Regions from separate parts of the Homo sapiens genome. Here region 1 is linked to region 2. The links come from fine-mapping of genetic effects on gene expression. A gene starts in region 2. The other region holds a variant in brackets. All regions are shown on one strand. Distances are between the middles of the regions. Region 1 has its middle 47 kb from the start of SYPL1. Region 2 holds the start of SYPL1 (synaptophysin like 1).

The links.
Region 1: its variant is fine-mapped to the expression of SYPL1 in esophagus mucosa (GTEx, PIP above 0.99). The same link has a PIP of 0.9 or more in nasal epithelium.

The regions. Positions count from the first base shown.
Region 1 is chr7:106,056,734-106,073,048 of GRCh38, reverse strand. No RefSeq gene overlaps it. Among named protein-coding and RNA genes, the nearest start is that of SYPL1, 47 kb to the left of the region's middle. RefSeq lists enhancers at 672-966, 10,151-10,200, 10,511-10,680, 10,711-10,840, 14,285-14,384 and 4 more and a silencer at 13,825-13,944. The variant G/C (reference allele first, on the strand shown) is at 7,693.
Region 2 is chr7:106,103,000-106,119,314 of GRCh38, reverse strand. It overlaps SYPL1 (synaptophysin like 1), which reads left to right and starts at 7,003. Exons shown (of 5, transcript NM_182715.4): 1 at 7,003-7,175. The coding sequence starts at 7,107. RefSeq lists silencers at 6,596-6,655, 6,736-7,225, 7,236-7,485 and an enhancer at 6,941-7,773.

The DNA.
Region 1 (16,315 bases), 46 kb after region 2:
ACCATGTTAGCCAGGCTGGTCTCAAACTCCTAACATCAGGTGATCCACCCACCTCAGCTTCCCAAAGTGCTGGGATTACAGGCGTGAGCCAATGCACCCGGCTATAACCTCATTATTATGATAAAAAACATACAAACCAGTTTGCAGAAACCTGTTTTATGATGCTCCAATTTATGTGGCAATTTCTAGAAAAAAATTTATGGTGATAAGTGAGAATTGTCAGTCACTGAAACATTAATTACATAGTCAGTGAAGAGCAGGTAAAATATACTTCTGGGCTTCACTTTACATTAGAGATGTTTTTCTGAAACGGTGCCTATGAAACAAATCCTTGTCCCCATTACTTCATATTTATCATTTCAAAGGCACTTTATCTTTATTTCTGGTTGATCACCCTTTGAGGGTGGCATTCCAAAATGTCAGCTCAAAATTTCCCTGCCCTTCGGTTTCTGTGACAAGTAAGTTAACGATCTGTAAATAAATCCTGAAATGTCCTCAGGAATCTGCCACTTGAAGGAATTCTATTAGGATTCTTCCAAAATGCAAACACTTGGCGTGTCATGGGCCTGCCTGAAGTTGTACGCTGGGCTTTCTGGAGGGCAGCAGACCCCTAAGAATAGAGCCCGGGCTTTCCTTTAGTTCCTCTCATTGTTTTTCAGGGACAAAAATCGTTATCTTATATTTTTTTTTTCCAGAGGAGTAGGAGGAAGATCTAAAATAGTTAGGTCTGGCAGCTTAATCTGGGTTGGCTGTCTCTGCCGGCAATCTGTAAAATGTGTTTTTCAAGGATAAGAAGTTTGGGCCCTGGGCCAGAGCTCATGTCTGTCATCAGCGGGAAAATAAATGATCTCTGTAACCTGCTGCTATGCTCTGTTTACCTTTGTGCTTAAACATGAACACCTTGCCTTCCATAGGCCCAGAGCTGCTCAAAGTGGATCCTTTGCTCTTGTCAAACAGAACCTTCATAAATCTGCCATTTGGGTGAGCATGGTGGGGCCAGCTTTTTGTGAGGTGAAACTCCAAACCAGCTTCCATTCTCGGGATTGGTATGTAGTTTTTTCATGTTGCCTAAGAGGCTCAGGAAGGGAACTTGAGGTATTTGTTTTTTCATGCCTGCAAAGGCCATTTCCTAAGAGGTGAGAAGCATATATGCATGCCTGCAAGTACCTGTGAACGTGGGCCACTGAGAGTCTCTGGGGCAAGAGCCCTTCAGGGGAATCTGGTATCTATTCATTATGCAAAACTTCATTCTAGCTAGAACAGGGCCTGGGCTACACTTAAAGCTTAAAGGGATGTCTGTTAAACCATGTTTCCTGTTTCCTGTAGAACTTACCACACTAGTACTGAAAGTGTCATAGCTCAGAGTGGAAGGTTAACGCGTAAGAAAGGGACAGTATTGGCAGAAGGCAAGTGGTGTGACCACTTCCTTCTCCACCCTCTTCTCCCATCCCTTGCCTCCCTGGAAAAGCTGGTTTCCTCAGGAGTCACTCCTTCAGCAGCCGCACAAGGCACACGCCTCGGGGAAGCCGGGCACAGGCTGGGGTTGCCTCCCTCCTGCCCCTGCCCTGCCTCCTGCCCCAGCAGACAGTGAATAAGCCACCTGGTTGGCCCAGCTTCCCGCAGTCCCACTTCTCAAGCTAGGGTACATGTATCTAGGAGGACAGGACTGTGTCGCTGGGAGGTAGAGTGAGACGGATGACAGGAGCCACAGAATCAAAACAGCACAATCGACTCATCAGTTCTTTAACTTGTAAGTTCAAGTCAAACATTACTTTTTATTTTGCTTTACTTACTTGTTTTTTGAGACAGGGTCTTCTCTGTCGCCCAGGCTGGAGTGCAGTGGCACAGTCATGGTTCACTACAGCCTCCAACTCCTGGGCTCCAGTGATCCTCCTGCTTTAGCCTCCCAAGTAGCTGGGACCACAAGCATGCAACACCATAGCTAACTTTTTTTTTTTTTTAAGAGACAGGGTCTCACTATGTTGCCCAGGCTGGTCTCAAACTCCTGGGCCCAAGCAATCTTCCCACCTTGGCCGCCCAAAGTGCTGAAACTATAGGTTTGAGCCACTGTGCCTGGCCAAACATTACTTTTTATAATAAGACGAATATTTTTTTCTGAAATAAGGCCCAATGAAGCCCACCTTGTTTGTGTTTAAGAAGCCATGACCAAAAAGAGCACTACCCATTCCTGCCCAGGCTTGTTGCAGTCACCCATTTAATCGCTCATTCAACTTGAGTGTACTTATGGGGCTCTGGCCAACTGCCAGATGAGAAAGACGCAAGCCCCTCTCAGGAACTCACAGTGTAGCGAGGAGGTAATAGGTTAATGCGTGGTTTCCAGGGAGAAGTTGGAGCTCAGATAGGGGTCAGCAGGAGTGGTTAGGGAAGCCCAGAGAAAAGACCCCAACCCAGCTAGGCACAGCTAAAGAGAGACAGTAGGCACTGCACTGGGGGAAGGAGAGAACTCGTCTACCAAGCAGGTACACTGCCCTGGTCAGGGCTTGCCTGCCCTGGCCTCTGTTTCTTCACCTGCCAGATAGGCAGTTAGAGCAGTGACTCTAAGCCCCTGCCAGACTGATATGTCTGTGGCTCCCTTCACCCACATCTCTGCAGAGCTCAGTAGCTCTCAAAAGGTAGAGCCCAGCCTCAGGGCAGCGCGGTGGTGTATGCTGGGGCTGGGATGTGTCAGGGTCATCCTAACTCCAGGATGCAAAGGTGGCCATTGCTGGCCCCAGGGTTTCATAAATTGCTCCGCACGTGGAGAGTCTGGTGTTGGCAGCATTGGTTCTGATATCCTGCCAACTGAGCATGACGCACAGGCCAGGTGGAATTCAGGGCATGTGCTCACGGAGGAACCACCGTGGATTCTGGCTGTGGCAAAGGTGCTGCAGATTTGCGCCTCAGTTGATTTGTTCCAGGATGGCGAGCACCATGGCCAGCCACACCCCAGGGAACATTCCCCCTGCTCCCTCAGCACCCAGCAGCCTCGCAGCCCAGCAGCCCAGCCCCGCAGCCCTCTCTGGCCATTGATTGCTTAGGCAGTACCTGAAAGAAATCTCACCTCATCTGGTCAGCTAGCCTGGGCTTATCTGTAGGGAATTTCACATCCGCTTCCCCCACCAAAAGACACACATCATTTTGTGTAAATGTGAAACTTCAGGGACTCTTGCCTCATAAATGCATGTGTTTTTTTCTTGTATGCAGTGCTATTTTCAAGACCAATATTTAAGTCTTTCTGATGAATTCCTGCCCATCTGTCAAGATTTAGCTTGAATGGCCTCCTCCTACCCATTCTATGGGCTCCCATAGTCCTTTGTGCACTAGAGCTTGAGAGCACAGCCTTGCAATTTATCTGCTGACACGTCCATCTCACCAGCTGGTCCTGAGCAGATTCTCAAGGGCGGGAACCTTACAGTGGCGGGCTTCCATCACCTAATACTAAGGCCTCTGCTGACACCAAAACTCTGTAAATGTTGCAGTCAATTCTAAGTGTCTTTTTCTCAACTGTTCTCATCTTACTTTTTATGGTTTCAATGCCTTCCACAATGGTTTACTCTCTTATTTAGACTTCATCTATCTCACTGAATGGTGGTGTTGGGTCACCTGGGGTCAGAAAACCAGTGCAAAAATGCTGCCACTCTGGCTGTTACTATTACTGGAAGTGAAGAAACTGTCCTTCTTCTCTGACCCAGGAGCCTCATGTCTTCTACCAACATCCGTGAAATTTTGGCATGTGTGATTATTACCTGCACATGAGATAAGATCTCAGTTCTTGATGGTATGGAATGCTGCAGGGAGAGGAAGTGTGCGTGCACAGGCCCAGAGGCCTAGGGGAGCCCAGCCTGCTCTCGGAACTGCCAGGAGAGCAGATGACTGTGGCACACCCTTGCTGTGTGGGGTGGCAAGCAGCCTCTTCCTTCAGGCTTCTGCCCAAATGTGATCTCATTAGAATGGCCTTCCTTAACCATCCCAGCTGACACAGAATCCCACATCACTCCCTGTCTCCTATCTTGCTTTTCTGTCTTTCACATGTATACCACATCATCTCATATATTTGTTTGTTTGTTGTCTGTACTTCCCTACAAAATGGCAAATCCCATCGGCGAAGGAACTTTGTTTCATTCACTGCTGTAATTAATTCTACCACTTAGGACAGTGCCCCGCATAGAGAGATGAGGCTGTCAGGACAGGCAAGCCTGGTTTGCATCATGGGTTACAGCCTGTAAGCCATGCCAGGAGCCTGGGTGAATCCTGGGAGGTTTAGAAATTCTTTTAAGTATTCTATGATTTGCATTTTAGGGCCATGATCCCTTCAGCAGCTGGCAAGTTCATTGAAGGGAGGGCAAGACCACAGGAGTCTGGGAGAGCAGGTGGGAGGTGGGCGCATCATCTAGAAGGAGGATGTTAGTGTGGATTTAAGACACTGGGCTGGAGAGGAGTGGAGGAGTGTTAAAGCTATCAAGTAAGGAGAATTGACAGGGCTTGGTGATTGATTGGATGTAGAATGCAGGGGAGTAGTGGTCACAGATGGTGATTTGGGTGACTGGCAAATGGTTTAGGGGGGTTCAGAGGAAATGGGGGGTATACTTAGAGATAGGATGTTCAACTGGGGCAAAAGTTTGACTTACTATTATCTGCTGAACCGTGAGAAGAGCTGTTATCCTGTGATCATTTCTCGACATCAATCCGATGGCAAGTAGTCTGTTGCTGGTGCCAGGGTCAGAATGTGGGAGTGTCTTAGTCCTGCGGTTCACAGACCCCAAAGGAGAAGCAGGTTACAGGGATTTCTGGTAGTTGTTTCTGATGCCAGCTCCAGGTTAGACAGTCCTCATTCAACCTGACCCTTTAACACTTCTCCAATTTCTGTTTTTCAATATTTTTACGTTTTTAATTTATGTCCCATAAAATGCACAATTTTGAGCGCACATCACTGTGAATGTTTATCTACGCATACACCCATGTAACTACCCAAACCAAGATTCGCAACATTTCCACAGCCCCAGAAAGCTATCTGTGCCCCTTCCAAGTCCAAAGTAAGCATGCTTACCCAAAGGTAACTGCTATCTGACTTCCGTCATCTAGGATTAACATTGCTGATTCTTGAACTCCATTATAAATAGAATTACACAATATGTACTTTTTTATCTGTGTCTTGTTTCTTTCAACATCATGACTGTGAGGTTCACATTTCAAAAATTTGCTGTTTTTATAACTGTGTAATATTCCATCGTATAAATATGCCATAATTTGTTTACCATTCTCCTGTTGATGGGCATCTGGGTTGTTTGGAATAAAGCTGCAATAAACTTTCTTGTCCAAGTCCTTTTTGCAGCTGCTGTCTTTTGGCAATTCCAGGAAGGCCTGTGTTTTGTGTATGTGGATGCGTATTATTAAAGGAAAACCTTCTTGACAAGGCCTTGAACTCGCTGCTGGCCTCTGCCTGGGGTACCTTTGAGGATGAGCAGCTCCAAGGAGCAATGGACAGAAGCTCTAAATCACTAGTGACCAAGGGTAATGTCACATCCCCTCAATTATTTGTTTTTATTAGAGATCAGGAGAATTTGGGGGAAACCTAAAAGTGATTTTGAGCAGTTATTCTCATGCACTTATAAAGACTTTTACCTCTTGCAAAGGACCAGGGCTGGGGAAAGAGACAGAACCAGGATGTAGGTTGGGCCTCATGTACTTGGAGAATGGTATTGAACTCCCTACAGCATGTGGCCCCCAGTTAAGGGAATGGTTTTTCTATATCACAAATGGAAAATATTCTCATTTCTCTGTAATCATAGTCATAGTGTAAAGCATCCTTCGCTAGGGTTTGAATGAAAGAGGTAATCTCCTGATTTCTGCTAAAGAACTTCTCAAATCCTTCATTGCTGATGACTATGACATCCTCATAGGTGCCATTTTCCTCCTAACTTTTTTCCCAAATATTTCTGATCCACCCCAGCAATGCTACTAGTAAATATTCAGAGATTCCTAATCCTAGACTCCTCAGGCATCCTAGGTTTTAGAAGAGAAAGAGAGTTCTCTTTAGTTAAGAACTTGCTGTGGGCCAGGTACTATGTGAGGTAGTTTGCATCCATTTCATTATTTAATCTTTACAGCACAGTGAGATAGGTTTTATTATTCCCCTTTGATGGATGAGGAAACAGAAGTGCAGAGAGGTTCATTAATTTGCCCCAAATCACACAGCAGAGCCAGATTTGACCTGAGATATATTTGGCTTTCTTGCCTATAGCACATTGCTCCTTAAACTAAGTGTGTCTGGCCAGGTGCAGTGGCTCACACCTGTAATCTTAAAACTTTGGGAGGCCGAGGTAGGAGGATTGCTTGAGGCCAGAAGTTCAAGACTTGCCTAGGCAACATAGTGAGACTCTCATTTCTACAAAAACTAAAACTAAAAATAAAATAAGTGTCTCTGACCAGACCTCCTAGCCTGGCTCACACTGTCTCCATGGTACAAAACATTCATATGGTCGAAAAAAAGTATTGTCTCTCAAATGACTGTGAGATTCCACTATCCTTTTATAACTTCACGATATAGAAAATAGTCAAGCTCTTGAGGTTAAAGTAATGTAACTCAGAATCACATGTGGTCCACTGTGAAAAAGCTTAAGGTGACCCAGGGTGCAGCTGTGACTTCCAGAAACGTGGAGACCAAAGGGGAGCTACATAAGGTGTGGAAGGTGCCGAGAAGCACAGTCCCAGCTTGGGGCTGGGGCACTTCCCACCCACCCCGCGGGCTGTGATTAGCCCCCACACCCTGTCCTGGGCCCTGCACTGGCCGCTGCACACCACGCCCCTGCTCTTTGTTCCCCGGTAGCAGAGCCAGTATAATTTCATGCTTCCTAATTTCTGAGGATAGTGAATCAATTCCCCCCACCAGTTTGCCTAGAAGAAGAGCTTATTTAGACAAACGCCTCCAAGGAAACAGTTGTAGAGAGTCACTTAAGAAAACAAGAGGCTGCTAAAGGAATGCTCTGCGTGCAGTGTGGAACAATTCGCAGTCAGCATGGGCGCTCCTCGGCGGGGAGACGCTCCCGGGCAGAGTGAGCACACCTGCCGCACATCCTTCCCAAAAGGAACTCCGCTCATTCCGGACGCTGGACTGCAAATAAAAACAGCCAACGCTAGAGTCCTGGAGTCGGGGAGGGGCTGGGACAAAGGTGAATGAACTTTCCTCCTCTGGCTTCAGATCAGCCTTTAGATTTCTCAGAATGCCTGAGGTCATCTAAGTGGTCTCTAAGTTACTGTCACACCACCCCCATTTTAAGGGGGTTCAGGGCAGCGTGGCTGGTGGGACCCTCTCCTGGGACACTCCTCCAGGCGCCCCCCCCCATCCCCTGGAGGTATTGGACTGAAAACAAACTGCTCGCTTTAGGGGACAAAGGGCACTGGGGGGTTGAGGCTGCAGAGAGGGAACCCCGGGAGGAGAAATGGCCTCGGGAGAGTGGATTCCAGCTTCCATAGAAGGCTGGGAAGGAGCCACCAAGAAGCTTCACCTCCAGTCCAGCCAAACGGTGAGCCGCGGAGCACACTGCTGGCTCCTGGCAGCCCTGAGCAGTTTCTATTACAAAAAGAAAAGGAGGGGAAAGGCTATGAATGCTGGCCTGGTTCCCAGAACAGAGGCTGCAGGGAAAATGGAAACAACTGTTCGCCGGCCCAGTGGGCTTGGCAAGGGCAGGTCAG[G/C]GCAGAACCAGAGGGCAGGTCAGTGCAGAACCAGAGGAAAAGGTGGGAGCCCCCAGGCTCTAGTCCCTGGGACCAGAATCACCCATGCCCCACCCCTTCAAGTCTCAGCTCAGATGTGGTGGGAGTGTAAAGAGTGCTGGATTGAGAGTTTAAGTTTTGGCTGAGCTCCTAACCAGCTTCCTCACATGCCCAGGAATCATGGACTCATAGCTCCCAGAGCCCAGGAAGACTCCCTCACCCACTAGGATGACTCACACAGTCCTGCCAGTCCTGGCTGACAGTGGTCCCTCCCATCCTGAGCAGCCGCCAGGTCATCGCATGCTCATGGCTCCCTCCAGTTGCCCTGCTGGACAGAGCGTGATGGAAGAGTGGAGAGCCCCAGCCGCAGGGTTCCTCTGCTCTCATCCCACTTTAGGTCTGCTCCAACCCCGTGAGGTCGGGCCCCTGCCTCCTGTGCCTTTCATGTCCCCAGCAGTTCCAGGGACGGGATAGGGACTCAGGAAGTATTTATGGCCTGGTTAATAACGAGCCCTGTCACAGCCTATGATTTGGGGTCCAATAAATCTGGGTTCCGATTTGGAGCCCTGCTGCCTGCTGGCTGGGAGGCTGAAATAAAGGCCTTGACCTCTCTAAGGCTCGGCTTCCTCCGCACTAAAGTGGTGGGTGCTTCACAGAGCTGATGGGAGGATAAAGGAAGTAAGCATATGGCCAGCAGAGGAGTCAGTAATAGCGTTCACCTCTCCATGCACCTGGAATCCTTGCCCACTCCCTCTAGACACAGGCTCAGAAGCCAGTGGAGCCTTTCAGGGTGGGGACCTCACTGGTTTTAGGGTCACGTCTGTTGCTGTGGAGGCAAATGGCACATCTGCTGGGCTCCACACTAGCCTGAGGAGAGGCCTTATGCTGCAGCTGTTTCCCAGCCGGCCGTGGTGAGGCGTCAGCAGGGCCCTGTTTAAACACAGCGCTGCGGGAGCCCCCACCCTGCACCTCAGATCCTTAAGACACCTGCTCCCTGATGCTCTCCCCAGGTCTCACCTGGTGGCAGGAGTGGAAGAAGTGATGGGATGAGTCACCACAAAGACCCTTCATGGAACTCATTAACTTTACAGAATAATGATTCTGGGACAGAGTGGATGTTTTTTTTTTTCTTTTTTGCCCCCAATTACTAAAAGAGTGGAGGATTTTAAATATACATAGTGTGCTCTGGTGATTGGCAAATTTAACCCCTGCTTGACTTAATTCTCAACAAGTCTCACAGTGATGCATTCTGGTGAGATTTCCAAGTTTCAGTCACTGCAGGAATGATGGAGGTGCATGGGTGCATGTCACTAGGGCACTTTATGGTTTACAGGGCACACTCACATACATTATTTCCTGTGATCCTCACCACAAATCTAGGAGGCAGGCAGGAAAGGAGTTCTTAGCCCTATTTTACAGACAATGGCATTGAGTCCCAGAGAGGTTGGGCAATTGCCCAAAGTCACACAGCTTATTTTTCGAAGCACAGTAACTCATGACCCCAGAGTTCACTTCATGTCTTCTCACAACAAGAGGGAGGAACAAGCACCATTGTCTGGCCTCATATATTGAGTTTTGATTCCTGGGTTCAGTTTCCTGTCACTATGCGCAGGGAAGAGACATGGATATCTGGAGATCAACTCCCCCTACTCCATGCTGTAGACTCCACTTTGGGAAAAGAGTACACAAGCGATGCAGGGGGGTGGGGGGTGAAAGAAATCCACATGTTTCATCCCCAAATACACTTCTTTGACATAATTTGAGATGGTTGTTCAGAGGGCCTGCAAACAGAAGGAGCCCTGCAAAGCTGTCTTTCTGGGGGAGATTTGCATCTGCAGAGAATCTGCATTGATGCAGCCAGGTTTTCTCAGGTTTTCTCAGAGGTCGTCCTTTGTCCAATCTAGGAAAAATTAACTGAAAATGGGACACCTTTAAAGGTCTGAAAGTAACATTTCCCATCAGTTCTCTCGGGGCTGCTCCCTGTGAGGTTTCGTCTACGTAACAAGATCATCTTGGCTCACCAGGCCTCCTCATCTTCTCCTCCCATAACCTATTTTGCCCCGATCCAAGCCCCCATTCTTTCTGTAACCTCAGGATGGTATATATACTTATACTTCCTGCACTGGCCGCTGCACACCACGCCCCTGCTCTTTGTTCCCCAGTAGCAGAGCCAGCATAATTTCATGCTTCCTAATTTCTGAGGATAGTGAATCAATTCCCCCCACCAGTTTGCCTAGAAGAAGAGCTTATTTAGACAGGAGGGTGGAGGAGGGTGGAGGGTGGAGGGTGGAGGTAATCACTCTGTGGTTCTCCCCCATGTGCACATTAACAAATTTGTCTGCCTTTTCTTTTATTAATCTGCATTTTGTGAGATGATTTTTCCATGAACATACAGAGGGCAAAGAAGTTTTTCCCTTGGCCCCTACTGTGGCTTCTCTGGACTGTGAGACCACCTTTAGTCTTGCCCAGGCAAGTTCTGAGGCAGGAGAATAGGGTCTGGAGGCAGGGAACCTAAGGCTGATTCACACTGACTAATTAGAACTAAATCAAAAGGGAAACCCCAACTTTCCACACCTAAGTAACAAAAGGACCAGAGGCTACTCCCTTTGTAAACACCCCCACCTGTCCGATTTGGTTGATTTCTGCAACCAATCAGACTGATTGCAGGCCACTACTTCATTTGCATGAAGTGTACACCAAGTGGCCTATGGGAAACCTCTAGGGGGTATTTGGACCCCTGAAGATCCTGTAACCAGCACCCTTGAACCGCTGCTCAGGCCTGCTCCCACCCTGTGGAGTGTACTTTCATTTTCAATAAATCTCTGCTTTAGTTGCTTCATTCTTTCCTTTCTTTGCTGTGCATTTTGTCCAATTCTTCGTTCAGAACACCAAGAACCTGGACAACTTGCAGTCAAGACCCTCCACCAGTAACAGTTCTAGCTGTCTCGACACACACAGAGGCTCGCCGTAGGCCCTGCTCCATTGATGCCCTGGGCAGTGGAGCCACAGAAGGCACCTCTGACCCAGTGCTCTGTCTCAGGCTGGTGCAGGCCAGGGCCTGAGCCTGGGCAAGGCAACACTGCACCCCTGTGAATCATGCACCCAGCAGGGGCTGTAACAGGGCTGCAAAGCCACCACCAGGCAGCTGCTGGCAGGACTAGGTTAGATGGTGGCATGCAGGGCAGGCAGGGCCTTCTGCACGTAAGAGGGACAGTGGCACTTCAGTCCCACCAGAAAACCCCTTTCGTCACCCATATGTTCAGCAGCCACGCACTACCTCCCGCTGTGGTGTATGCAGTACAGAGGCTGCTGAGTGATTGTGGAGGCAGCCAGGACAGAAGCTGGGAGGCATATTGTACAGTGACAAAGAACAAAGACGTTGGAGTCCCACGGCTTCAGGTTCGAATCCAGACTCCACTTCTTAGCAGATGGATGATCATGGGAAGTCATTGAGTCTCCCTGTGTGCCAGTGTCCTCATCTGTATACTGGGATAGGACAGCACCTCCCACAGGGGTTCTGAAGTGATGTAAATGCAATGCTTGGCCTGTAGTGATTGCCCCATCCATGGTTGATACCATAAGGGGTTAGTGAAATGCACTGTTTTTTGCAGCTGTGGTGCCATGCAAATAAAAGTTATTCTCAGGACTGCATATCGCTTTCACCCTGTCATAGGTTTCACATTTTATTTTGCTTATTTCCTGTCTCCCATTCGGAATAGAATCTCCATGAGGGCAAGGATTTAAGACTATTTTGTTCACTGGTATGTCCTCAAGTGTCTACAAGACTCTTTGTGCCTAATGGAAGCTTGATTTGTTGAGTGAAGGAAAAACAGGAAAAAAAAAAAAAAGAGAGAAAGAAAGAGGAACTGAGAAAGAAAGAAATAAAATCTCCTTGATATACAGATGACAAGGACTATAGCGGGGAGCCATCACAGGCCAGAGACATGCCCTGCCCGCTGTTTTCATGAAGGCCATGAGAAACAACAGCGACCCTTGGAAGCTGGACTGGCTTAGGAGACATACAGGGTGGGACGCCAGGGAGGGAGAGGAGCCTCAAACCAGACTTAGGAGAGCAGAGCAGCAAGGAGAATAGCCATGACCCAGGGGCTCGCTCAGTCACACCTGACTTAAGGTTTCACCAGTTCCTAAGAGCGGCCAGTTGGGAAGTAGCACCCAAACCCCACTGCTTAGCACGTGTTATGTATTGCAGGGATCCCTCACCCCCAGGGCCTGTTAGGAACTGGGACACACAGCAGGAGGTGAGCAGTGGGTGAGTGCGCGTTGCTGCCTGAGCTCCACCTCCTGTCAGATCATGGCAGCATTAGATTCTCATAGGAGCACAAACCCTACTGCGAACGGTGCATGCGAGGGATCTAGGTTGTGCACTCCTTATGAGAATCTAATGCCTGATGATCTGAGGTGGAACAGTTTCATCCCAAAACCACCCCATCCTCCTTGTTCATGGAAAAATTGTCTTCCATGAAACTGGTCCCTGGTGCCAGAAAGGTTGGGGACCGCAGATTTATTGGACAACAAGTGATGCAAACGTTCATGGCATACTAAGCTGTAGCTAGTTCTCATTCCAAGTATGAGTTCAGGCATTTCAGGACATGCTTTCAGCTGCCTGTTGAGGCTCTTAAAGGCTAACCAGGAAAGGTTTCCAAACAAGGTAAGCTCCCAAGGAAGAGTGCCAGCAAGATCCTGCGTGAGCGGGCCACATGGGCAGCCCCTTAGGAAAGGTGCCTTGGCAGACCTGGCTGCAGGCTGCGTGGGCTGCTTGTTACACACAGCTTTTGCCTTGGACAATAGCCTGATAAGGCTGCACACTAGGGAGAGGGTAGCTTTGTGGCCAGCTGAGGGAGTCCCTTTCTACCTGAACTTGGTCTAGAACGTGCTAGTTGTCAGCCATGTTTACCGTACCATCAATAGCCTGTCCTGAGGTCCTCCTGGAACTCAGTGTTGGGCTTGTGAGGTGCAGCGAACTACTTTTCTGATTGAAAATATGCTCTCTAGGCCGGGTGCAGTGGCTCATGCCTGTAATCCTAGCACTTTGGGAGGCCGAGGTGGGTGGATCACCTGAGGTCAGGAGTCCAAGACCAGCCTGGCCAACATGGCAAAACCCCGTCTCTACTAAAAATACAAAAATTACCCAGGCGTGGTGGCGCATGCCTGTAATCCCAGCTACTTGGGAGGCTGAGGCAGAAGAATTGCTGGAACCTGGGAGGCGGAGGCTGCAGTGAGCCGAGATTGTGCCACTGCACTCCAGCCTGGGCAACAGAGCGAGACCCTGGCTTCAAAGGGGGAAGAAAAATGTTCCCTAAAGCCCACCTGGCCGGATAAGACCTGGGGAAACATCAAAGGAAAGGATGAAGATGGAGTGAGGAGGTGTTTCTAGAAACTGGAGGATCTGCCACACTCGCCATTGGTGAGGACAGGAAGGGAAGGGGCAGGGGCAGACTCAGGCTCTGAGTGGGAGGATATTGGGGGAAGGACAAAACAGAGGGCTCTGCAGAGCCTGACAGGCCAGGCTTCCCAGGGAGAGGACCAGGGCCACTGAGAACCATCCAAGGAGCATCTCCAGGCCCCGGAGAGAGACTGGAGGAAACAGACTGGAGGAAATGGATCTCACTGCCTGTTTTGCAATTTCCTGGACACTGACTAGGTTAGCACATCCCTATGTTGACTGGCCCTATGTGTTGCCTCTTCTGTCAAATGCCTATTCATATTTTTTTCCCATTTTTCTTCTGAACTATCTGTCTATTTCCCACTCCCTCCACCCCACCAGGCATTCAGGACTCGATATATTCTTGAAGCTAATCCTTTGTCACTTAAGTGCTACACATATCTTTTCCCAGCTTGTGGCTTATCTTCTGAGTTTCTTTAAAATACCTGTGATGAACCAAGGTTCTTAAATTTAACGTGGTTGAAATCATGAATCTTTCTTTTTTATGATTTGTGATTTTTTGGTGTGTTATTTTTAAGAAATTCTTCCTCACTCCAAGATCAAAGAGATATTCACTTCCATTTTCTGCTGGTCAGATATCCCACCCACAGGGATGCTGCTGTTGTTTGGGGACCTGTGCCCAAGGCAAGGATGGGCAGACCCCAAACCTGACATGCTGTCCCCAGATGCCAGGAGGACCACATGTCAGGGCCTGCACAACCTTAGGGTGCCTTTCCTGTAAACCAGCCCCCAGACGTCACTGGGTACAAGCTAGTGCTCCTAATCTACCCCCTACCCGTACTTCGGCCAACACAAAAGGTGCCAGTGAGCCTGAAGCCATAAGATCCATGTGGCAGATTTGAGGGCCCCAGATGCTGTATTCAACTGGGGGTACTCAAAATACTGTGATCAGCACAGATCTGTCTGCTCACCACATGCCAGGATCTGCCAGGGACCATCTCACAGCTAATGATAAATCCTCCTGTCAGGGCCACAAAGCAGGGCTTTGTGTCACTGTGTTAGCCCGCATCGTCCCAGGGCAGGGCTCCAGGCTGAGCTGGTCAGCCCAGGCCACTGCAGACAATGGAGCCACAGTGGGGCAGGGCTTGCAATGGAAGTCAGTATGGAGGATGGTGACAAGAAGCAAACACCCTGACAGCAGCCAGGCCCATGCACGCCTCCCCGAGGAGGGAGGACAGGGCGGGGCAGGCTCTGCAGAGTCAACGGGCAACTTGAATCTTGCAGCATCTGGCTAGCACCCAGGCAGGCTCCACAGATGCCCGCCTGGGCCTGATTTTCCTGTTCTCAGTCTCCCACGTCTGCCAGGAGGCCTTGATAAATATTCAATAGCTCTGGCCTCAGAGCCTGTGTCTGGAGGACATTCTTAGGCAGTGAACTGGAGACAAGCTGAGAGGAGGCCTTTAAAGGAGCCCCAAACCTCAGCCTCTCCTTTCTGCTCGGGGTTTGGTTTTAAAGAGTCCCAGGGGAGCCACCCACCTGCAGGCCTGACCCCCTGAGGTCGATACGCGGGTTCCCTGAGCCCAGCTCTCAGGGAAGAAAAAGGCAGAATTCAGGCTGCTAGAGCAGCCGGGATAAGAGAAGTGATGCTGGCAAATGTGGTATTTAATGGATATTTTAAAACACCAATAGCAAATACAGTCATTTCTGGGACTTTTTTTTAGAAGATGCTGAATTAAAAATTTGCATCTTCCCTCATTCTTGATCTCCTTCTGCAGTTCCACTTGAGCAACCCCACAGGCTCCAGTCTCACTTCTGCTCACACCCTCCACCTGCTGCCCACGCAGCTTCCTGTCCTGCCCCCACCGCGCCCCCTGCGCCGTCCCAGCTCACCTGTTGGCCATCAGACATCACTCACGACCCCTCCCTTTCACCAGACTGTGGCTCCCACCATTTTGATTATGAAGTTTCTCATTTAGCTCAAAATATCTGACAGACTCCCTGCCCCATTCATTATATTGGACACATAGAGTCGAATATATATTAAACTTCAATTAGATCAATTCTATATTAGACTTCTATAAAACATCCAGTGGGTGAGAAACTATATAATGATCAAAGTGACTGCAAATTCAGTAACCACATTGTGCAATCATATTTTACTTATCACAGAAACATCCAGGCACCTTTGAGAACCAACAGGACGTTCATGTGCAGAAGATGTGATTTCTTCAATCTAAAGACAGTGGAGAGAGGGGTGTGTGCGTGTGTGCACGGGTGCACGTATGCAAATTTGCTGGCCCCTCACAAAAGCTCTAGTTTCTGGAAGGAGAGCCCGAGTGTCCTCAGGCCCAGCGGTTCCAAGCATTACTGGGTGCCTCCACTGAGATAGCAAAGGACTCACAGGTCTCCAGGCACCTGGTAATAATGTGGAATTGGCCGGGGCTGCCTGTTGCTGAGGAAGTTCTTGTCAAGTCTGGCCTTGGTGGGAGCACCAGTGGTAGTCAGAGGTTCTTCACCTTTTTTGGGTCATAGACCCCTTGGAGTGAAAATGTTGGAGGTTTCTCCTGAAAAGCACACTGCAATTCAGGGGATCCCCTGGGTCCTGGAGTCCATGCATAGGCATCATGGACCCCACATGGAAACCTCCCTGATTGAGAGGTCTCGAAAGCTTTTCCAGTCCTAAGAGTACAGTTTCTAATTTGCTGGAGTCGGCTGGACTTTCATTCCCTGGCAGAGCCATTTTGGAGGATAAGAAGATGTGTCTTCTCTACCACCGCACATGCGGTCCACAGTGACTGAGGGGAGTGTCACGGTGCCACCTTGTGCTTCTGTCCTGAAACTGCACCTTCTCTGGGGCCCATGCTCAGGTCCACACTGCCCACCTCTCACTCCATGAGCCTCACTCCCTACCACTCTCCCACCTTCTTACTCTGACCAAGCCACATGGACTCCTGACGTCCCTGCCTTGGGGGCCTTTGCACTGACTGTTCCCCCTGCCTGAAGTCTGGGTTTAAAGCCGTATACACAAGTGCAGTTTGTACAGTCATATCATGAACCAAGAAAAAAAGCAAATGTTTATGAAGATGCCTTTATTTTCACTTGGCCTAAAGCGAGAAAGTATCACATGAGTATATAAAAGAATTTTTTAAATTTTGAGGCAGCTTTGAGGAGAGATTGAGGAAGATGAGAGGGTGTAGTAGT
Region 2 (16,315 bases):
TGCAGTGGCCTGATCTTGGCTCACTGCAACCTCCACCTCCCAGGTTCAGGTGATTTTCCTGCCTCAGCCTCCCAAGTAGCTGGGACTACAGGTGCGTGTCACCACGCCCAGCTAATTTTTGTAGTTTTTTTAGTAGAGAAGGGGTTTCACCTCATCATTCTCAGCAAACTATCACAAGGATAGAAAACCAAACACCTCATGTTCTCACTCATAGGTGGGAATTGAACAATGAGAACACTTGGACACAGGAAGGGGAACATCACACACCGGGGCCTGTCATGAGGTAGGGGGAGTGGGGAGGGATAGCATTAGGAGATACACCTAATGTAAATGACGAGTTAATGGGTGCAGCACACCATCATGGCACATGTATACATATGTAACAAACCTGCACATTGTGCACATGTACCCTAGAACTTAAAGTATAATAATAAAAAAAAAAAAGAGAGAAGGGGTTTCACCGTTTTGACCAGGCTGGTTTCAAACTCCTGACCTCAGGTGATCTGCCCACTTTGGCCTCCCAAAGTGCTGGGACTCCCAAAGTGAGTCACCGTGACTGGCCCTTAAACGTTATTCTTAAAGCTGACTCTTTTTATTCAATTCTACTGCAAGTTCTCAGTAACTATCCAACTGCCTCTCTTGAGCAGCTTCACCCTGTTGATATTAATGCTTTTATAAGGGAGATAGTACACAATTGCTATTTGCAGGCCGACCTCCAAAACTACAGCCCAGGGGAAATTTCTTTATCTTTGTCCTAGCAATGTTATTTACCCCCATGCCACAACATTGATATGCTGAGGTACTAATTGTTTGGTTTTTTTCATACTCTTTACAGCCTTTCTTCTTTCCTGTCTCCCTAAGTTTACTGTATATTGTCATTTTCCTTAAATATTCTTCTGTGTTTATTCTGTCTGTCATGGCTAACTATTGCTTCCATGGCTACACCAAGCACCCACTATAACCAGTAATATCTCAGGTTGCTAACACAACACACAGCACTAACCGCTGGATATGCTCACGTGGGCAGTCACTCGAGAATGACATTACACTCCTAGCAGTTCCACTATCTATAGAAGAAATTGCTAACACACAAGCCAAATACTCTGGATTCAACTACGCCAGGTACACGCACACCAAAAATACAGGTTTATGAGGTAAACCTAGGCCAATCGATCCCTCATGCCAATCACCCACGGTGACCGAGCAAATAGGGAGGGCACCAGAGATGGCTTATAATGCTAGAAATTCCAAGGAGTCTGGCCCTTTCCCAGGGGCTTTAACACACAAGTCCATTGCAATTACACTGTCAGCTATGATCAAACAAACCAGAATGGAAGCCATGCAATGACTCTTAACAAGTTCACTGTGTACCTCCACAGTTTTTCTCTATGGTGAGGAAACAACAAAGTTCATGCCAGAAAGATTTATAACAATTCCTTTATGCCTATAAATAGTTCAGCAGCCAGGATGGAACATATAGAAATAGCAGTCAAAACTGGACGACTTCTCAACTTCACTAATACATCTACATCTTTTCCTCAATTTTCTCTTATCCCATTAATATTCAAAAATCATATCTGTCAGGCCCCACATTCACATAACACTACAAGTCAAACTTTTACCCCCTTATGCGTGGATAACTACTTTTTGGGTCACTGCCCATCCACATTTAATCCCAGGGGACCATGGGATCCCTCTATTTATGCAAACCATACGGGAATCTAAACTAATCACACCTATGCCTGGTTGTGAGGTTCCTCTTCAGGAGTTTCATTAAAAGGAACTGGGTTCTTCTTTTTATACAGATCTAACATATTTCTAGCCTTGTCTATTAAGTGAAGAGGCACTTACACTACAGTTGCAGCAATATCTGGAGTGCACATATATAACTCCTCAGACTTCGTAACCTCTAGCCAAGCTCCAAATTTAAAATCCTTCTTATGTTGGTCCCTCCAAAGGACATCAGAAGCAGTACTTAGTCTCCCATCATTTAGCATCCTCGCCAATAATAATCCTGTCATAGAGAAAAATGACCTAGGACATTCTGTAGCCAGTGCAATCTTTTGGTTTGCAGATATACCCATGCTTAAGTGCAGTATTCATAATCTCACCATCCTAGTCCAGCAATCTTGGGAAGCTACAATCACGGCCATTGAAGGCCAATGGCAGGCCCTGAACTCGCTGGCAGGGTATGTTTTGCAGAACCAACTCACTTAGGAGGTGCTTCCTGCTGAAGCAGGAGGCACCTGCATGCTGTTAAATAAAACTTGTTGCTTTTACATCAGTAACTCAGGTCAGGTAGAAGAAAGTTTAGAAAAGATAACAGACAACATAAAAATATTAAAGGGCCTTCAAAACAGAGTTCCTCAAGATTCCTTTTCAGCACAACTATTTCAAAGCTTCTCCAGTTAAATTTGGCCATGGGTTGCTCAACTTCTTCTGCCTATAATAAAGCTCATATTAGTTTGTTTATTTGCATACTGTATTGTTAATTCTACATCTGATTTTGTGTTTTCTAGGATACAACAATTTCAAACCAAAACAGTACTACAGCAAAGGTATCAGCTACATAACTTTCCTTTGAATGCAGCAGAACAAAATTTTAGGCTACAAATGCTGTTCTCCCATAGTCTCATAGCAACCCTGACCAATTTAAGTCCCAACTCAGGGATTTAGGTGTACATAACCTCCTGACCGACTAACAATCCTAGGTAGGGCCAACTATACACCCCTGGTCAGCAAGAAGCAGTTGGAAGATGAGACCTTTAACCACATGCCAAAGATTAGTCATTGTTGCTGTCAGGGTGTGAAGAAAGGTAGAGTCCTAATTCAGGAGAAGGAGTCAGGCTGGCAGGACCAGGGGAAAGCAAAACGAGAAAGCAGATAGATAAGCTATAAGTCTGCCTTTCTTCATGGTCCAGGACACATAGCCCTCATGTGTAAATCACTCACAATCTTCCTGTGCCGAGCTACCACCTGACTCTTGGCTGACAGAAAAATGCAAGTTAGCTCACTGCAACCTCGGCATTACCAATACTGCACAAAGTCTTCTTCAAGCGCAGAGCACAAGCACCATCCTATAAAATCCCTAGCAAGCTTTTGACTCTTTGCAGTCAGCTCCTCTTTCGCTGACCTGCCTGTTGCACCCTTGCAATACATTTTCCTACGTTCTCAAATAAATCTGCCTTTCTTTACCTACGACTGTCTTGGTAAATTCTTCTTACTGCCTGTACCACTGGCCCCAGATAGTTTCTGATCACCTGTGACACTCATTACATTAAATGTGGTTTCCTGGATTGGATCCTGGGGGAGTAAAAAAGACATTAGTGGACAACTGATGAAGTTTGAAAAATTCTTTAGTTTAGTCAGTAGTAACACATCAATACTAATTTTTTTTGTTTTGACAAATGTATGATGGTTATAGAAGATGTTAACATTAGGGGAAACTGGGTGAAGTGTATACAGAACTCTTTGTACTTTGCAATTCATAAATCAAAATATGTTTTAAAATGAAAAGTTTAAGAGGCCTCAGATTACTTTGAGATTAATTTACTGAGCCTATTAAATCCATCTATTGTACAATTTAAATAAATTTGGTTATCTTAAAATTTTTCTAAAATGATTATTGAATTCATTAGCGAAAACAAAACACCTATTTGTGTTTATAAGCAAAAGTCAGGTTTTGAATTTGGTATTAAACAATATCTTTTCAGAAAAGGAGATAAATATTGGTTGGGAATGAGTTACAAAGTCTCATCTTGCCAATAAGATGACCAAAACTTTGTATTCCCATTGAGAAAAACAAAAAATATTATAGTTAGCCAATGAGATGTCTAATATAGTTAATATATGGTTGACTAAATATAGTTTCCTTTCTGGCCTTCTGAGCATTCCTAAATCCCAAGTGTCACAGTCTGGCACATGTGTTCAAAGCCACAGAGAGAAAGTAAAACAATGACAAATTATGTAGGTAACTTAGCCATAATTATACCACCACAGATAAAGCTCAATAATACTACCTCAGATAGACAGAACCATTTTATATTACAGGGATTCTTTTCCAAATAGCCCTGGTAGAGTAGACCTGGAACATGTTGTTCCCAGAGCATCTGGCTCTTTCCTCAGATTTGAGGAACAAATCAGAAAATGACCAGTGTTGTAGTCAATGTGATACAGTCATCTGAACATTCTTCCCTGATTTTGAACAGTTGTGCCTTCAATGAGATGCTATTGTTTAAACACTTTTGTTTGAGGAGGATTTAAAAAAAAATCACAATTATCTTGTTGCCCAATCAGATCTCACTGGCTCTGCCAGTCACGGCCAGTTCCTTCTCAGGAAGGTAGGCCCCTGAGCTCAGCTGACTGGCAGAAGCAGTGCTAGGCTGTGACTGAAGGTGAGCAGTGGCGGCTCACTTCTGTTTCCTTCTGCTCAAGAGAGATTCTGCGAATGAGTTCTGATAAGTGACCAGATGTGGTTCTGCTCACCCTCGGTGGTCTCCATCTTTAAAATCGAGTGCCACAGGGCCAAGGAAGGAACCTTCTTAAAGTTCAAGGAGTTACTCTAGCACTGAAGGTTTCCTGAGGAAATGTAACCACCATGCCTTCCACTGGTGGGCTTGAACAAGAAGCAGGAGAGAAAGTGAGGAGAGGCAGACAGAAGCAACAGAAAGTTTAGCGCGGAAGTTGAGAAAGGGCCTGGCCAATTCCAATTTCTAAGGCCTTCAATAAACAAAAAGAAGAAGAGATGCCAATATTGGTTTACTAAGTCATGGTATGTTTTAGATCTTTAATTAATAAAGCTGCATGTGAACATATCTCTAATCTGTCAAGGCATATCTCATTTTGAAATAACATTAAGAGCTGGGCGCGGTGGCTCACGCCTGTAATCCCAGCACTTTGGGAGGCCGAGGTGGCGGATCATGAGGTCAGGAGTTCAAGACCAACCTGGCCAACATGGTGAAACCCCGTCTCTAATAAAGATACAAAAAAATTAGCCGGACGTGGTGGTACGTGCCTGTAATCCCAGCTACTCGGGAGGCTGAGGCAGGAGAATCGCTTGAACCCGGGGGTGCAGAGGTTGCAGTGAGCTGAGATCACGCCATTGCACTCCAGCCTGGGTGACGGGGCAAGACTCTGTCTCAAAAAAAAAAAATAATAATAATAACATTAAGAGTCTAATTTGAATATTCGTGAATATGAAGCTCAAGCTAAATAGTCTTACTATTCACTACTCCGTCCCCAGGTGCCTACCCAGAAGACCGCAACAGAATGAGAGTAAAAGCTTAGAAAAACGGGCTAAAGAGAACAAAAAGAGAAGTACTGAGAGGAAGATACAGAAACAAAGTAGAAAAAAAAGGAGAGAGAGGAAGCTGGAAGACCTGGAGCACCGCTCATCGTGGTCTCAGACGCACCAGGTAGCAGTGTATGGTCACCTTCCACTCACCTAGCCCTAAGGGGTATCTATGATGCTTTGTTGCTTAGTGGGAGAAATCTGCAACCATCCATTAGGAACCCGCTGCAACCCCCCCACCTCCCGGTTCAAGCGATTCTCCTGCCTCAGCCTCCTGAGTAGCTGGGATGACAGGCGCGTGCTACCACGTCAGGCTAATTTTTTTGGTATCTTTATAAGAGACGGGGTTTCACCATGTTAGCCAGGTTGGTCTTGAACTCCTGACCTCACGATCCGCCGGCCTCGGCCTCCCAAAGTGCTGGGATTACAGGCGTGAGCCACCGCGCCCAGTTCTTAATGTTATTTCAAAATGAGATATGCCATTAGGTGCTCATTGAGCACTGACTGTGCTGGGGACTGAGGAACGGGAGCCAAGATAAACATAAAGATTGTCTCTGTCTGCATAGAAAATGAAATGTATTTTTTGCACTCTCTGGACAGCAAACAAGGAGATAGGTCTCGAAAGAGAAAGGGTTCGCTTACTACAAGGACGTTCAATAACAGTTGTCAACCCTGACGGAATAACCTCAGTGGCAAGTAGCCTGCAAATCATATTCGTGCTTGAAATTCAGGTAAGTCCTTGGAAGCTGGTTTTTCATATACACGAATATGACCACATTCCAGCTGTCCAGGAACTTTCCAGGTACTGAAGAAGCCAGGAAGGAGATCACACTACCTTGGGGCTCCCGTAACTGCGTGCCAAGAGGAAAGTATCACCTAAGCCGAATCTTAAAGGGGTCAGCTTCTTGAAGAAAGATACCAACGATGCCTTAAAAAGAGGACTGTCGACCGACAGCGTAGAAGAGGTGAAAGTGTAGGTCACCGAGGGCCTGTCCGGCCACGCCTTTCCTTTTAGGTATAAACTTACTTCATTTTTCAACCATGGCTGCGATGGTAACTTTGAAAATAAACCTAATTTCCATACGAATATTTGGTGATTCACACTTTCGAGGCACCCCACAGCACGGTAGCCAGAAGTCTGTTGTTTTGCAATTTTAATCAAAGGCCCCTAACACATGCCTTGAAACACAACTTCATCTGTGCCAATACATTATAAATTCATAAAAAAGTTGAGATCTGTTAAGGGAAGGAGAGGTCAGCTTCGGTGTAGTGAGCTCAGCTGTGGTGAGCTCGGGGTCAAGTGAGGGTGTCTCTGAGGCCAGCGCCCCCAAGCTGCGCAGGAGCGGGCGTGGGCGCCCCCGGGTCAGGGCTCTTCGCAGTCGCGCGGGTCCGGAAGCGCGGCGCGGGCCCAACGAGCGCACGCGTACACGCGTGCGCAGGGGAAGACCGAGTGCCAGGGGCTGAACCGCAGGGAAGGGGGCGCGGCGCACGCAGTATGGCGCCCAACATCTACTTGGTTCGCCAGCGGATCAGTCGACTCGGCCAGGTGCGGCCTGAGGAGAAGCCTCCCGGTCTCCGCCCCGGCCCGCCCCTCGCCTCCCCAGCCGCCCCACTCCGTTTCCGCCCCAGAGTCTCAGCCAGCAGCTCAACCGCCGCCGCTCCGCCCCGCCCCGCCCCACGGCCGCCCGGGCCCGCCTCCGAGCCCGGCCAGCGCGCCAGCCCCGCCTGCCCTTCCTCGCCACCGGGCTGCTCTGGTCTCGTCGGTCCCCTCCTCCGCCCCGTCGTCCTGACTCTCTCTCCCTCCTTTCCTCAGAGGATGTCCGGCTTCCAGATCAACCTCAACCCGCTCAAGGAGCCACTCGGCTTCATCAAGGTCCTCGAGTGGGTGAGTGCAGCCCGCGCCGGCCAGGCCCGCCTGCCGCTCGGCGCGGCGCCCTAGGCGGGGAGACGGGGACCTGCGAGCCGGGACGCAGCCCTGCCGCGCGGGCTTTGAGGCCGCCGCCCCGGGACTGGGAGTGGACGGCAGGGAGGGCAGGGAGGCCGCGGCCTGGGCCGCGCGGGGCGGAGACGCCGCGGCGGGCGTCGAATCACGAGCTCCTCGGCCGCCTGGCTCCCAGGGGAGCCACCCTCCCACACCGGAGCTCCCCTCTGGGTGTCCCCGTGGAGTGGGAGTTCAAATTTCCCCTTGGCTCCACTGCCTCCCGCAGAGGAAGGGAAAACTTCCTGCTGCGGTCTAACCGAAACCCGGCGGCCGGCGTCGCGCTCTGCGGAGAGGCTCAGCGGTTACGTCCCTGCCGGTGCCCACTCGAGGTCTAGCTCCCTGGGAAGCCGATTTTGTCTTGTAGACGTGATTTGGCGAGCATTCCGTTCTTAATTTGTTTTTAAGATGGGCTCCGAGTTAAAAATAGTAAAAAAATAAACTGTGGGCCAGGGAAACTAAAGAAAGTCCTTTTAACAAAACGCATCGAGTCAGATCGGTTCACTTAATAACACGTTAGGAATGGACATCGAGTTTGTTTGGGGTATTTCCAAACAACATCCTGTTTAGAAAGTCAGCTTTTAGTCCTTTCCTGAGAACACTCACAATCATTAACATCAAAGAACGCTTATTAATTCGACCTTGGCAATGATCAGTTACTTGGAGGAGTTGGTGAATATACCAGGCACTGCGGGCTTCCTTCAAACTTCGCGGCCCACTACATATTTCTGCAGGCAAGTTGTGTTTATAGACAGCAGCATTTACATCCATAGCTTTTTCGCCCTTTTCCTTAGTGATAGAGTGGTGAAGAAGAATAAGAACTTTCAATTTCCTGTTCTAAATAACCTACCGAGGATGTTTTTAAAAGCAGCGTAGAAACTCAGTTTCTCTGATGGGTACCTAATGTGATTTCCTACTTGGACCATTGTAACCGCGCAAGGGGTTAGGCAATTTCACCATTCACTGAACATTTTGTGTGTTTTCTGAAAACTGAAGTAGTGCTGACTTCACACAAATGACTACTTGAAAGACGCATAAATAAATATACTTGATTTTTTTAAACCTAAGTCCAGATTTAAGTATAAAGAAAACCATGATTAAAGCATTTAAAAATTGCAAGAGGAAAATCTCATTAACGAGGCTAATCAAATATGAACGTTAAGAAAGTCTTATATCTAGATTTAGTCTCATTGAGGATTATAATTAAATGTATAACTAATAATTTAGATTTCCACTTAAATGAAGAGGCAGTTGTTTATATCTGTGCTTATATTTTTTGTCAAGTTTTTAAACAACTGTAGACTTAGCTTTTTCCTTAATATTTCAAGCACTAGTGATAAGTTCATTCGTGTTTTGATGTATTTTGAAAAATATCCCTTTTTAAGCATCTTACAGAAATACTTTCAGTTTGAACAGCTTGTTATTACACAGGAGAGCCTTTTATGAAAAGACTACACATTGTTAATGGTGTGGTAAATATTTGACTATTTTATACCAGATCTGTACTAAACACTAGCATACCACATGAATAAAACATGGTCTTTTTCTCATGATCTATTAAGGATGAAGGACATACAAAATACAAAAATGCCATGTAATAAACTGTGATAAAGGTGTATGCAAAGAATAGTAGAAGAAATGAGGGAGAGAGCATTTGCTTGGAGGAACTAGGGAGGACTTCATAGCTGAGAGAACACTTGAAGGATGGGTACTGGTTCACTTGGGGAGTGGCTTTCTAGGCAGAAGGAATCTTATGTTCAGTGGAAGGAAATGTTGAAGCAGCATAACCCTGTATGAGAACTTAAAAGTAATTGGGGGTTAGTTGGAATATATGCTAGGTTGGAGGGTACGGTTTGAGATTGTTCTGAAAAGATTTCAGAGGTCGGCTGCTTCTGGGGTTAATCTTTGGGAATCTGGGCCCTTTCCTTAGGAAAATGCATATGTGCAGGGTATGGAATATTGGAGTGTTTATTCCATTCAAGCCCAGAATCCCTGCCATAGGGGATGGGAACTTAAAGGCTTTAAACAAGTCAATGATACGACTAATTTTAGGCACTCATAATTCCTCAATCAATCGATTTCTCCCTCCAATTCTGACCTTTCCAATCCATCCCTCTAACTGCCGACAAAATGAAAATTTCTAAAAGGATGAATTGGAAAGGCTAGAATTGGAGGAAGGGAAATCTGTTGATTGAGGAATTATGAGGGCCTAAAATTAGTTTCAGTAGGACTGAAGGGGTTTACAAAAGGGGGTTACAAATTAGAATATATATGGAAGGTAACAAAGAGGGAGGACCCTAAGATGACTGCTGTCTTTCTGACTTCGTTGCCATTAGCATATTCAAGGTAATGTCATTAAGAGGAGGAGGAGCAGATTTTATGGGAAGTCAAAGGTTTCAGATGTATTGAGTTTGTGGTCTCTTTAGATCTTTTGGAGGTATCCTATAGGATACAGCTATATATATGGATCTAGAATTTAAAATATGAGTTTGGGCTGCAGATATAGCAGATATCTGCCTGCAAAGGAGAGAAGGAATGGTTAGGAAAATTGAGGGAAATAATGCCTTGGCATCACTATTAGAATTTCAAGAAAAGAGTACCCCAAAACGTAAGGTGCAATAGAATGGTAAAGTAAAATAAGGACTAGTTGATAAAATAAGGACTAGTTAGCAAGAGCAGTTTCAGTAAAATCAAAAAGCCAGATTTTAGTAGGCTGAATGAATGTGTGGTAAGAAAGTGAAGACAGCATAAACCGCTGTTTGACTGTGAAGATGGGAGAAATTTGGTGGTTACAAAAAAAAGCCACTAGTTCAGCTTACAACTCAGTTGCTTAAATGCATTCTCTGGAGACAACCATTGTATTTGGTATGCAACAAAAGTCTTTATTTGCATTTCCCATTTTATCCTACTGACAAGAGAACTCAAGGGTCAAGGTTTAATAAAATTTTTACTGCTTCATCAGACATTCTTAAGTAAAACTGGTGGGGGTTTTTTGTTCTTTTTTGTTTTTGGTTTTTTGTTTTTAACTGCAAGTATGTGGCAGTGAAATAGAGTTTGGTATTCTTCCTGATTCTTATTAAACCCGGCAGTTTTCCCCACCAGTTTATCTGCTTCATCAGTACAAATGTCAGCACAGTGTAAAAGGCAAATAATGTCTTAGTATCGTTAGGAAAATGTTTTACCTTCATGAACTCCTGAAAGAGCCTTGGGAGCTTTCAGGGGTCCACAGACCACGCATTGAGAATTGATGAGGTAAACACCACTGGGGACCAGAAACAGAACAGAAAATACGGCAGGGAGAAAGACTATTCCCAAATTTGGTAATTATTAATAAATCTGAAGAAAGCTCAACCAACTATCTGGATTTACGACTTAAATAGAGCTGAGTACTTAAAAGTGTAGAAATAAAGAGATATATATAGCCTCTCAAGACCTGGACCAATCTACTTGCAGGCTTAAGGTCTGGATTTGTGATAACGTGTATGTTCACTTATGTTGGTGGTTTGGGGGTCCCATCATAAGGTGTGTTTGTGGACCAGGGGACTCAGAAGGCCAAGCAGAAATGACCATGACCATAAAGCCGCTAGACAGGGATAGAAGCAGGAGGGGACAATCAAGTTGAGCCTATATCAAATATCCTAAAACACATGAAGAAAACTAATTTTTACTTAAAAATTCAAATTATGTCAGTGGCAACAAATGCTGTCAGTTTTCCACAGAGTGACAGGCTTACTTCAAGACAGCCAGCCAGATCAACAATCAGGATATTGATTCACTCCAGAAGACATGAAAATAGTAGAGCAATTAGAAAATGATTTCTATTTTTAAAAATATAAATTATATTTTAAATTTTTAAAAATATAGTCTCTGTCTTGTCCAGGCTGGAGTGCAGTAGTGTGGTCTCGGCTCAATGCAACCTCGCCTTCCAGGTTCCAGAGATTCTTCTGCCTTAGTCTCCCGAGTAGCTGGGATTACAGGCGCTCGCCACTACATCCAGCTAAGTTTTGTATTTTTAGTAGAGACGGGGTTTCACCATGCTGGCCAGCCTGGACTCTAACTCCTGACCTCAAGTGATCCACCCGCCTCGGCCTCCCCAAGTGCTGGGATTATAGGCATGAGCCACCGCGCCTGGCTGATAAATGATTTTTAAATAAATATATTTAGGTTCCTCAGAGATTTAAGGTGACATAAATGTGTTTTCAACATACAATGATTAGGAGTTAGCAAAAAACTTCTAGCTGTTTATTTCAGTAGGAACTCTAGAGTTTACTTCTCATAATCCAATTTTTTTTTTTTTTTTTTTTGGAGACGGAGTCTTGCTCTGTCACCCAGGCTGGAGTGCAGTGGCATGATCTCAGCTCACTGCAACCTCCATCTCCCAGGTTCAAGTGATTCTCCTGCCTCACCCTCCCAAGTAGCTGGGACTACAGGCGTGTGCCACCTTGCCCGGCTAATTTTTGTATTTTTAGTAGAGACGGGGTTTCACCTGGTTTCACCAGGCTGGTCTCAAACTCCTGACCTCAGGTAGTCCGTCCGCCCTGGCCTCCCAAAGTGCTGGGATTACAGGCGTGAGCCACTGCAGCCGGCCATAATCCAAATTTTTAAGGATTATGGAATTATCTTGGCAGGCTATTTAGAATTTTCTACTATTGTACATTAGAAGCAAAGGGAGATAGAGTGAAACTGAAGCACTTTGTAACTGACTTTATTTCCCAGTGGGAATAAACTGAAATACCACCATCAAAAACAATACTTTTTTGAAATGAATAACTTTAGTAAACATTTTGGACTTTGACTCATAAAAATCATACCTTGGCTCTAGGCATCTAATCTTTTGATTGTAAAGGCAAACGTGCTATAATATTTCATTTTAAGTGCTGAATGATCATTTGACTTAAAACCAGCATACATTTCTTTTGCATGTAAACACTCATACATAATATACTTTTATATCTATTTTTGAAGATTTCAGTTATCACTTTGATAAACTAAACCTTGGACAGAAAGAAATTTAAATAGATGATTTCAGATTAATGATGAAATTAAATAGCAATGAAGATCCTGCAACTAGAAACGTGTAAACAACACTCATAAACCAGGTGAATACTAGTATTCTCCAGTAGAATCCTCAGAATTAGCATGGTCTAGCAATAGAAGTTAAGGCTCCAAACTCTTTTTAAATTTTATTTATTTATTTTTTGAGACAGGGTCTCACTCTTGTCACCCAGGCTGGAGTGCAGTGGCACGATCACAACTAATTGCAGCCTTGACTTCCCCAGGCTCAAGCTTTTCTCTCACTTCAGTCTACTGGGTAGCTGGGACTGCAGGTACACACCACCACCCCCAGCTACTTCTATAATTTTTTATAGAGACAGAGTCCCACCATGTCACCCAGGCCAGTCTCGAACCCCTGGGCTCAAACGATCACCTGCCTTGGCCTCCCAAAATGCTGAGATGAACCACTGCACCCAGCCTCCAGAGTCTTTTTTTTTTTTGAGACAGAGTCTTACTCTGTCGCCCAGGCTGGAGTGCAGTGGCATGATCTCGGCTCACTGCAACTTCCGCCTCCCAGGTTCAAGCAATTCTCCTGCCTCAGCCTCCCAAGTAGCTGGGATTACAGGTGCCCACCACCACACCCAGCTAATTTTTTTTGATATTTTTAGTAGAGATGGGGTTTCACCATGTTGGCCAGGCTGGTTTCGAACACCTGACCTCAGGTGATCCACCCGGCTCAGCCTCCCAAAGTGCTGGGATTACAGGCATGAGCCACTGTGCCCAGCCTCCAGAGTCTTTTTTGCACTCCTATTAGTGCAAAATTTTATGGACAGAGCCACAATATGCATCTACAACTTAAGATGCATGTTTTACTATGTCAGTTAGTATCTTAAGGTATATTATATACTCAGTGCAAATTTTGTTTATATTTTTAAATCCTTGCTTCAGATACTATTCTGATAATTTTTTATTGTTGTGCCACCGTCTTGTGATCTGATTAAGTAGTCTGTTTTTACCTTGTAATATGGCTGTTGATTGTAATCATAGAGTAGTATGAATGCTTCCATTTTCTCTTTTATACATGAGTGTGTGTGTTACCAATCTATTTCTTTGAAGACATTTTAAAGCCATGGGTCAATTTTGTGAAGGTTGATTTGGTTAAAACTAGACAAATTATTCCATAAATCCAGGCCCACTCACATTGTAATGCATGAACACTAAAAGTGAAAGAATAGATGAGGTTATCACTGTCTGTCCTTCCATGTATGAGATTCCCCTTACCTTCAGGATACCCAGCATGCTGTACTGACATGTGACCTTCTGATGTGCATGCCCAGCATGGGTTTCAGTGGTATATTAATTGCAATAAAGCTTCAATTCCTTATTTAAGTCTGAAAGTAGATCTAAATAGAAGTTTACATATTTTCTTCTGGTACTCCAGTCTACTTTGGAGACTAGTGCTCTGGAAAACCAGGCTGTACTATTCACCCTGAGGTTACAATTCTCTGAATAAGATCTGCCATGGTGGTCATCTAGTATGGGTCTGGTGGGCAGAGAAGTAAGTGGGACTGTTTCTCTGGATACTTGGGGCTGTATGTGAACATGTAACTTTTCTGACTAAACAGAAGCTTGCTGTCACCCCGCCCCTGGATTCTTACTAGTCACTGTGCAGATAGAATTCCATGTCAGTAGTTTCAGTCATTCTTCATGGGGTAGGAGTATATGGGAAAATAAGTTTCAAAAGTGGCCAGAAAATATAAATCAGAACACCAGTACTCCTTCATTTTAGACTAGGGTTGGAAACTGAAATGGTCATAGGAACCACCCTCTAAAGTAAATGAGTGAAGCAAGATGTTTGGAAGAAAAAGAATAGTATGTCATTGATTACTTACTGGCAACTAACACACATCCTGAGGGCTGTTAAGACAATGGAGAAGCGGATAACCTGGAAAGCACATACTCTGCCATAAGTGACATCTGTCACTCAGTTCTCTCTGATTGTTGCTTTATGAGAATGTAGGTCTGATGTTGCCATTCTTCAGCTTTCCCATACACACTCAGGAAAAGCAGGAAATCCAAATTTTTATGTGTAATACCCTGATATTAAAACAATGACAACAAATTCACATTTTTTTGTAATACTGGAAAGGCCACACAAATATATTTGCAGGCCGGGTTTTACCAACAGGCTGCCAGTATATAACTTCCAGTCTAGATCAAAATAGCAGTAGAATATAGGGAGAAGTGAGATAGTTGGATATTTTGCCCTCATAATTTTGTACTTTGTTTAATATAAAATATGTGCTTTTGTCCCTTCTTTCTATAAGATAAAGACCAGAATTGCTGTCATGATATTTATCTATCCTTATAACAAAAAGCTTTAAAATAATAATTATGTAAGATTCAAAATATGGTTTTATTTATAAGTTATTGGAAATTATTTTTTCCTTAATTAAGTAGTTATTTAGTGAGCATCTGCTATGTGCCAGGTTTTCTGCTAGTCACTGAAAATCCTAAACAAAACCAGGTGCAAAGACATGACAGTCTGGCAAAGGAGCAGTAGAAGTGATAGTCTTGAAAGCAACAAGCTGTAGTGCAGTATGCCATTTATTTGCTACTTGTTATATTAGGAAATTCATTTTTCCATTTAATTTTTTTATTTTATTTTATTTTTAAGACAGGGTCTCACTGTGTTGCCCAAGCTGGTATTGAACTTCTGGGCTCAAACAATCCTCCTGCCACGGCCTCCCAAAGTGTTGGAATTACAGGCATAAGCCACTGCACCCGGCCCCATTTTATTTTTTAGAAAGCAAGTTACACAAGAAAAATGCCTATAGTAGAGTTCATATATAATAGAGTTAATGTCTATGATAGCTCAAGAGAAGAATCATGAGTTCTACCACAGGGAATTGGGTAGGGCCTTAAAAGATGAGCTAATCAGAGACAGGGCATTCCCAGAAGAAGAAGCATATACATTTAAGACATAAATACATGGTATGTTTCAGGAACAGTAAGCAGTATAATGTGACAGAATCATACAGTACCTGGCAGTGAATAGACTGCAGATAAATCTATCTAGAAAGATAAAGTTGAGGATCGATCAGCCATGCCTTTTATGCCAAATTAAGAAGTTGGAGCATTTTTTGTTTAATTTAGGTTGAAAAACAATTGAGGAAATTCCTTTAAATGGGAAGGACATGATCAGATTTTTATTTCAGATCAGTTTGGCATCATTCTAAACTAGCTCTGTCCAGTACAAAAAAATACAATGGGAAGCAAAAATGCAAACCACATAGTAATTTTCAGTGTTCTATTAACCACACTAAAATAAGAGGAAACAGGTGAAATTAATTTTAACAATATATTTTACTTAACCCAATCTATCCAGATTATTGTTTGAACAAGTCGTCAATATAAAAATTAATGAAGTATTTCACATCTTTTTCATAGTAAATCTTCAAAATCTAGTGTGTATTTTGCAGTTGGAGTATATATCAATTTAGATTAGTGACATGTAAAGTGTTCAAGACTCACAAGTAGCATTACTGGGTACTGCAGCTATAGTGCCCACATTATAGAAGATGAGTATCAATTGGAATGAAATTGGAAATGTGAGAAAGAGTCTGCTGGGTTAGTCCCAATGAAAAATGGTGAGGGCCTGAACAAAAATAGTGGCAGGTGTAATGTAGGCAGGTAAACAGAGCTTTTTAAAAAATGGTTTTATAGTCTAGGTAGTCATATGCAACATGGTTTTTATTTTGTTTTTGTTTTAACTCAGCATTGGATTTCTATGATTCATCTATGTTGATGTAGGCAGTTGTAATTCTTATATCTTTTTTGCCGTATAACTTCCCAGTGTAAGAATATACTATGGTATTTTATCCATTTCCCTGTTGCTTTTCCCCTCCCCATTTTTCATGAACATTCTTATATGTCTCTTAGTACGTGTGAGCAAGGGTTTCTCTTAGATCTATATACTAGTAAATCCTTTGTGACATTATGTTTATTATAAATATGTTCATCTAATTGGTAGCTTGTTTTACATTCAACAG